Linked DNA regions of Homo sapiens. The protein of the gene in region 2 purifies or fractionates together with the protein of the main gene of each other region. This does not show direct contact. Each region holds a gene or a part of one and is shown on either strand. Other genes may lie near its edges.

What was found. Proteins that work in one complex are often made in the same cells at the same time.
Region 1: the proteins of DLAT (region 2) and PDHA1 fractionate together in Homo sapiens (co-fractionation; 3 studies listed by BioGRID). This does not show direct contact.

What each region holds. Positions count from the first base shown.
Region 1 is NC_000023.11:19,346,861-19,350,817, reverse strand, and holds part of PDHA1 (pyruvate dehydrogenase E1 component subunit alpha, somatic form, mitochondrial isoform 1 precursor), read right to left. Parts: intron 1,507-3,957; coding exon 1,447-1,506; intron 882-1,446; coding exon 708-881; intron 1-707. UniProt on the Homo sapiens protein: The pyruvate dehydrogenase complex catalyzes the overall conversion of pyruvate to acetyl-CoA and CO(2), and thereby links the glycolytic pathway to the tricarboxylic cycle.
Region 2 is NC_000011.10:112,038,458-112,042,447, reverse strand, and holds part of DLAT (dihydrolipoyllysine-residue acetyltransferase component of pyruvate dehydrogenase complex, mitochondrial isoform 2 precursor), read right to left. Parts: intron 3,205-3,990; coding exon 3,051-3,204; intron 1-3,050.

The sequences.
Region 1 (3,957 bases), on a different chromosome or scaffold from region 2:
ATTCTACCTGGCTGGCCCTTGTAGGTATTTGACTCTAACCCTTGACCTAAGCCCACAAAACAAAAAACAAACTAATCCTTTCTCTCCAAATTATATACAGTACAGGCGATCATAGTGCCAGAAAGTTTTAAAATAGTAAAACTCTAAGAACAGGTACAGAAAACTGGCAATGTTATGTGTGAATGAATTCTTTAGCCTAAGCTTCATAGCAGGTTTTGGCATTCTACTTTTTAATTCTAAAATACTGGCTTCAGCCAGGCACAGTGGCTCACGCCTGTAATCCTAGCACCTTGGGAGGCCAAGGTGGGCGGACCACTTGAGCCCAGAAGTTTGAGACTAGCCTGGGCAACATAGTGAAACCCCGTATCTCCAAAAAATACAAAAATTAGCTGGGTGTGTTGGTGTGCACCTGTGGTCCCACATACTCGGGAGGCTGAGGTGGGAGGATTGCTTGAGCCCAGTGGACAGAGGCTGCAGTGAGCCAAGATCACACTGTACTCTAACCAGAGGCTGCAGTGAGCCAAGATCACCACTGTACTCTAACCTGGGCGACAGAGAGAGACTGTCTCAAAAAAATAAATAAATAAAAGAAAATTACATTACCAGCCTCAAACTCTTCTGATACATATGGCAGGGTAAAGCCCAATAAGTACAAGCCATACTTCAGTACCTAAATAACACAGTTCCACCACAAACCTACCACTCACCTGACCATCACACAAGTGACAGAAACCACGAATAATTTTCTGTTTATACAGCTGATCTGCTTTCAACTCCATTCGGCGTACAGTCTGCATCATCCTGTAGTATTTGAGCCCATCCTCCCTGGTGAGCACTGTTGTGACAGGAGGGCCTTCTTCCAGCCGGTGAAGGTCACATTTCTGAAATGGAATAAGGTAGTTATTATCCTCCACATACTACATTGCAAACACTGTTGACCACTCTAAGATCTAACTCCATTGCAAATAATATTGAACTTGAAAAACTGCAAAGGAGCACATCAGTAATGCTTCATATCGCCTCTGTTCCTTAAATCCATAAACCTCACTGTGCAATGAGATGGGGCTTGGGGGAAGGAAATCTTTCTAAGATGATTTTCACTGAAAGCCCCTAGAAGCCAACTGAGTTATAGGTTGAAAGAACCTTCAAAGAAACAACTAAGACTCTTCTTATTCAAATATTTCACTGAATTACATTCCAAACTTTTGAATAAGCTTTTATTTTTATTTTCATTTTCTAGCTCCTCCCCCTTCCCCCCACAGAACAACAGCAAGCTGCTAATAATAAATTCTAGTTTTCGTGAAGCTTCTCTGAACTTCTGATCCTGGAACATTTAGAAGAAAATGATGACTAAGCATGAACATCAAAATGTTCTATTCTAAAGGTAAAACTGTATATCAGAGTGTACCTGTGAAAAAATTATTAACAAAGTAAAACACCTCTTACCTTAATTTCAAATGTAGCATCATTTGCAAAATTACGGGATGCTACCAGCACTCTGCTTGCCTTAAAAGACAAAAATATACAAACAAATCAGTACTTTTTAATTGTCAGCTATTTTGGAAAGTATAATAATCAGTTATCAGAATGAAGTTATGGAAATTTAATAAGCCCCAACATATTCATAGGCTTCTCTTCCACCCTGTGCACTGTGTTTGCATCTTCCTTGGCCTCCAAAATGAATCCATGCTTTGGCCAATGAAACAGGATTATCCCGCATCTGAAGGCAAGCAGCGCAAAGAGGGGCAAAAAACAAACCCATCCTTTGTTTTCAAAGAAATTATAGTGAGAATATAATGAAATTAGTGGCTAAAGAGACTAGATCATCTGTGAGCTGTGTCTGTTTATGCCATTCTTTTGTTTGTTTGTTTTGAGACGGAGTTTTGCTTTTATCACCCAGGCTGGAGTGCAGTGGTGCGATCTCGGCTCACTGCAACCTCCGCTTCCCGGGTTCAAGTGATTTCTCCTGTCTCAGTCTCCCGAGTAGCTGGGATTACAGGTGCCCACCACCACGCCCGGCTAATTTTTATATTTTTAGTAGAGATGGGGTTTCACCATGTTGGCCAGGCTGGTCTCCAACTCCTGACCTCAGGTGATCCACCTGCCTTGGCCTCCCAAAGTACTGGGATTGCAGGCATGAGCCACTGCGTCTGGCCTTTTCATGCCATTCTTAGTCATAACCAGATACTGTTCATTTTGAGCAAGCCAAAATTATACTTCAAATAAAACTATGATTTAATCTCCACTCTAGGCAAACTTGACTCTTCTATCAAATTGGATCTGTAAGAAAAAATATTTTAAATTGATTGAAGTATGAGATAAATACTTTAGGGAGACAAGACAAAAGAAAAGATACTTAGCACTCTCTGACTTAAACACAATGGGCTTGAGCCAGCTGTTTTATAATTTATAATTTGAACAGCCTAAATCTTGGACAGGCTCCTCCTGAAGCCCCAGTAGAAATGTTCTCTGAAACACTGTTCTCTTGATGTTTGGGTGGCTGTCACTGTTTGGAGGTAAAAAGCTTGGAGGCGGGGGGTGAGAAATGATTCCTTTCCAGTTTTACAACTGAGCAAACCTGCTCACAGCAAAAGTATTCTATGTAATGGCTAAGGTTTAGGTTAGACCACAAAATTTATCCAGTAGTATTATCATACTATTTTAGCTCCCTTCTGCCACATTCTCACACACTGACGTGTAAACCAACATGATTTCTCCATAAAAAGCACATCTGATGTGTTCATACCTTACCTAATCCAGCACTGGACTGATCTTGGTGAGAAGAGTTAAGACTGATCTGCCAAGTATACCCTGGAGTGTACAAGCCAATAGGCAGAAAGCTAATTACGTATATCTTCACCCCTCAATAGACCATTATTGGACAAAGCCAACAAACACAGACAATGACAGTGCTGGAGGAAAACAACTGAAATACTAGGAATCAGTGTTTCAGTTAACTTACAGGCAGAGACAGTCCACTAATGTATCTCAGAAAAAGTGAAGGAAATTTAGGAATTTGGGAAGAAGTAAAGCTGAGAGAAGGTGAAACAGCAAATCAATGGTTATATTTAGCAATCAAACAGATGTGTTATTCTTGGCAGTTAATAAATATTTTGTGGGGCCAGAAATTTATTGTATTGTGAAATAAATTTCCAAATACAACTACAGAAACTGCAGTTTTTGGAAGGCAGGAGTCCAAACCAGCCAGGCGACAGTAACAGAGAAAAGGTAACTTCTTTCTCAATCCTAGAGTTGAAACAATGAGGCAGGATAATGCTATACAATAAAGAGCAAGAAGGGGCCCAGTGCTGTGGCATGCGCCTGTAATCTTGCGCCTGCAAAGATTAGGACTGCCAGAAAGCTACTTAGATACTTTCTCCCATGGCTTCATTACTGTGTATCTCAAAAATAAGAACCACTGATATGAGTGAAAGGAACAAAGTTAAAGAAGCTAAAAGTCCTATCAGAAGTGTGTGTGTATCATTTCTGAGTGAGAGCTTGTTGAAAAGATAAGTTTACCATTCATTTTCTCTGGAGAGCCATAAAAAGATTCTCTGTTAAATGGGATTCCTCTCTGACAGAGACCACGAACAACCCACTCAAATTTTAAAAAATAAAAACTAGGCCGGGCATGATGGCTCACACCTATAATCCCCAGCACTTTGGGAGGCCAGGGTGGGAGGACCACTTGAAGCCAGGAGTTCAAAGCCAGCCTGGGCAACATGAGACTCTCATCTCTACAAAAATAAATATTAAAAAATTAGTCAGGTATGGTGGCACACACCTGAGGCTACAGTGAGCTATGACTGTGCCACTGCATTCCAGCCTAAAAAAAAAAATTAATTAAAAAAAAGTAAAACTTTAACTTCCTAAATACATAGGAACCATTCATGTGAAAGAGGAAAAACGTTTCAAAAATTCCAGATTCTAACAGTGTAAATTAAAACTCTTACCTAC
Region 2 (3,990 bases):
GAGCTCTAGAACAGAGGTGGTAGTACCCCTATTAGATTTCTCTCCTTTGTAAAAGACAGAAACCATAACCTCCCCTTACAACCAAGGCTGATCTAGACACCACAGTCCCTCAAGAGGAGGAAATCCATAGTACCACCTGCCTTATGCTAAGCTTCAGCCACCCACAAGAATTTCCTGACTTAGGAGTTAGTTGAAACCTTGTAAACCCTTTTCCCTATCTCTCTTGGGCGGCACAACAGGCCATCATAAAGCAATATGGTATAAAGGGAACAACACTGGACTATGGGTAACAAAAAGTAGGGATCTTGTCAAACATAAACTATATAAACGTTTCATCCATTTCCATGGAGCAACCAAAATGATCTTTTCAAAACATAATCATTTTATTTCACTTCTTTGCTTAAATTTCTCAATGGCTTCCTCAAGTACTTTAAATAAAATTCAAACTCTTTACCATAATCTATAAGGTCATTTATGTTCTCATCCCTGTTTTTTTCCAATCTCATCTCCTACTAGACCCTTTGCTCATTATGCTTCATTAACACTGGCCTTTTTTTTTTTTCTTTGAGACGGAGTCTTGCTCTGTCGCCCAGGCTGGAGTGCAGTGGCACTATCTCGGCTCACTGCAAGTTTGGCCTCCCAGGTTCACGCCATTCTCCTGCCTCAGCCTCCCGAGTAGCTGGGACCACAGGCGCCTGCCACCATGCCCAGCTAATTTTTTTGTATTTTTAGTAGAGACGAGGTTTCACCGTGTTAGCCAGGATGGTCTCCATCTCCTGACCTGTGATCCACCTGCCTCGGCCTCCCAAAGTGCTGGGATTACAGGCGTGAGCCATTGCGCCTGGCCAACACTGGCCTCTTTTATGTTCCTCAGACATGCTAAACTCTTTCCCATTTCAGACTGTGTACAGCTAGTCTCTCTATCCAAAATGATCTTTCCCCAGTTCTTCACATGGTTGGCTCAAGCTGCCTCCTTCTTATCTTTCAAAACAAATCAAATGTCACCTCATCAAAAAGATCTCCCAACCAACCTGTCTAAAAGTAGTCATGACTGCACATATATCCATTCACCCTTTCACTCACTAGTATATCACTGAGTTTCTTTCTTTCTTAGCACTCAAATCATCTTATTTAATAACAAAAATATTATTATCATTATAGCTAATACCTAGATATGCTTTCTCTGTACAGGCACTGGTTAACTTATTTAAACCTCACAACCATTAAACCTAATGTTTTTATATACAAAGAAATTGTGACACAAAAGGTCACACAGCTAGTATAAAGAGCTGAGGTTCATACCCAAGCATTCCAGCTACAGAGCTCACACTCTTAACTACTATGCTATACTCCCTTTCTGTTCATTTAATTCTTTATTGTTGGTCATATAAGCAACTGAAACTGAAATCTTATCCATCTGATGAACAAGTGTCTGATGTGTAGATAGCAGTCGATGATATTTATCACCTAACTCTGCCTGCATAGTAAGAACAGTGGGATTTTCTTTCTTTCTTTTTTTTTTTTAACACTCCTCTCAGCTCATACCTAAGGGATTTTCCACTTATATCTTTAGTAAGGTAACGAGTATTGCTGAATATCTAATAAATGGTCCTTCTTTGCTTGTCTAAATTCTTTAGATATAATTATTAACCCAGTCCTTTCTCCCTTTAAAAGTTACTCCAACTTACACTGCTGTCCCTGATTCTAATCATATATACATATATGATAGCAATATACTACTGAAATGGCATTAAGATGGAAAAAAAAGAATCTTCCAATATTACAAGAATCTCTGAGGTCCAAAAAATTTACAACATTCTACTCTTGTGTCTTGGGATTGGCTTGACTTCTAACTACAAGATAGCAAATTGCAGATACGGGATAACCACCATTGAGTACCCATAACTAGAAAATTGGGGAAATAAGCATATTTTTCTTTAGTAATTATGGATGGCAGAGCATCAAAACAGAAGGCAGGATAGGGTAGTGTGAAGAAACAGGCTTTAGAGTTAAACAAATCTAGAGTTACACTGCAACTTTACTATTTAACAGGAAGGAAGAACCCTGAAGAGTCTGAGAGTCTGTTTTCTTATCCAGAAAATAAGGAATGATAATTCTTACTTCAAGAAGTGTTGTGTACATTAAGTATGGTAAGTTAAATGACTGACACATAGTACAAGCCATCAAACCAAGTTCCAAGCATAATAACTTCCCCCCATTCCAAATAAGTACCTTAGTTATCCTACACTAAATTTTAGCTTAAGTTTAATTCAAAAAAACTTATTTAAGCACCAGGCAGTAATATCAATATGAATGACAACTAACATGTATTGAGTACTTATATGCTAGATACAGTTCTAAGCACTTCACCTGTTATAGCTCATTTAACTCTCACAATCTATACGATGTACAGTACCTCAGTTTTACAGATAGAAAAGTAATTGACATAAGGACATACAATCTAAGTAATTCACTGGAAAACATATTACATAGAAAATTATAAAGCCAGGATTAAATGCTAGGTGGTCTGATTCCAGGCCCCATGCTCTTATCACAAAGCTATATTTTTTCTTTGGCGGCAGACAGACAAGTAAGGCGTTTTCCCTTGCCTTCAGGGAGCTCTAGTTCTGTTTTATATGAATTTTATTAAGTCATTCCAAATCACCCCAACTTCAAATTTTATTTTGCTTTGCTTATTGCTACAGTCAACCAAGCACTAACAGAGGTTTCTTATTACATAATCAAGTCCCATAACCAAATTTTACATATACTTTCACCAAACAAGCAGTTTCCATGAATAGAAGAGGAAAAAAAAAGGTATCTAAAGTGTATGGGTAGATTCTAGGCAGAGTAAATAAAGCTCAGTAAAAGTTTCCCTACTCTGTGGTGGCAACAAAAGAACTATTTCTCCCTTCTGAAGGAATTATTAATGATTGTCCCTACTATCCCAATTATAAGTACGGCTATACATAGTTGTACTTGCAAGTCTTAAGGAGGAAATTCAACTAAATTTTAACTTTATAAAGTCCATTCTATAGAAACAGATTTACCTTTTACTTGTGTAAGATCAATCCCTTTCTCTACTGCCAACTTCTTTGCAAGAGGGCTAACAAACACCCTTCCCTTTGGTCCAGCAGGAGTAGCTGGGCAGGGTGCTGAAGGTGTAGGAGCTAAAGGCTGGGGAGTTGGAGGAACAGCGGCCACCTTTTGAAAAAAAATTACAAATTGTTTTAATTCACCACTTCAAAGACTGGTCTGAAAGATTAAAAGTTTACATCTTATTAATAAATTAAAACTATTTTAATTAAATATTAATAACTTTCATTTTTCCAAAGATCATAATGTACTTTTCGCCAGCTTAACCAACATAATGTAGTAATACGAACAGCGAGAACAATATACTTCTATATCAAAGACAGAACAGTTACCTTATTCCATAACAACATGAAGCACAGAATTGAATATTGCCAATCAGTGTATAGTATTCTACAGCCTTTCTTCACTTTAATCTCTTACCACTTCTTTATTCGCATTCTTTTACATCACCAACATGATTTTTATTTTTAATTATCCTAACTTCTTTTTTTTTTTTCTTTTTATTTGAGACAGAGTCTTGCTCTGTCACCCAGGCTGGAGTGCAGTGGCGCAAACTTGGCTCACTGCAACCTCCGCCTCCTGGGTTCAAGCAATTCTCCTGCCTCAGCCTCCCAAGTAGCTGGGATTAAAGGCACGCACCACCACGCCCAGCTAATTTTTTGTATTTTCAGTAGAGATGGGGTTTCACCATGTTGGCCAGGCTGGTCTTGAACTCCTGACCTCAAGCGATCCACCTGCCTCAGCCTCCCAAAGTGCTGGGATTACTGGCATGAGCCACCACACCCAGCCAGCTAATTTCAAAATATAAAATTATGCTGTAAGGCCCCATGTTGAAAAGTATCTTAAGAAATACGGCCAGGTGTGGTGGCTCACACCTGTAATCCCAGCACTTTG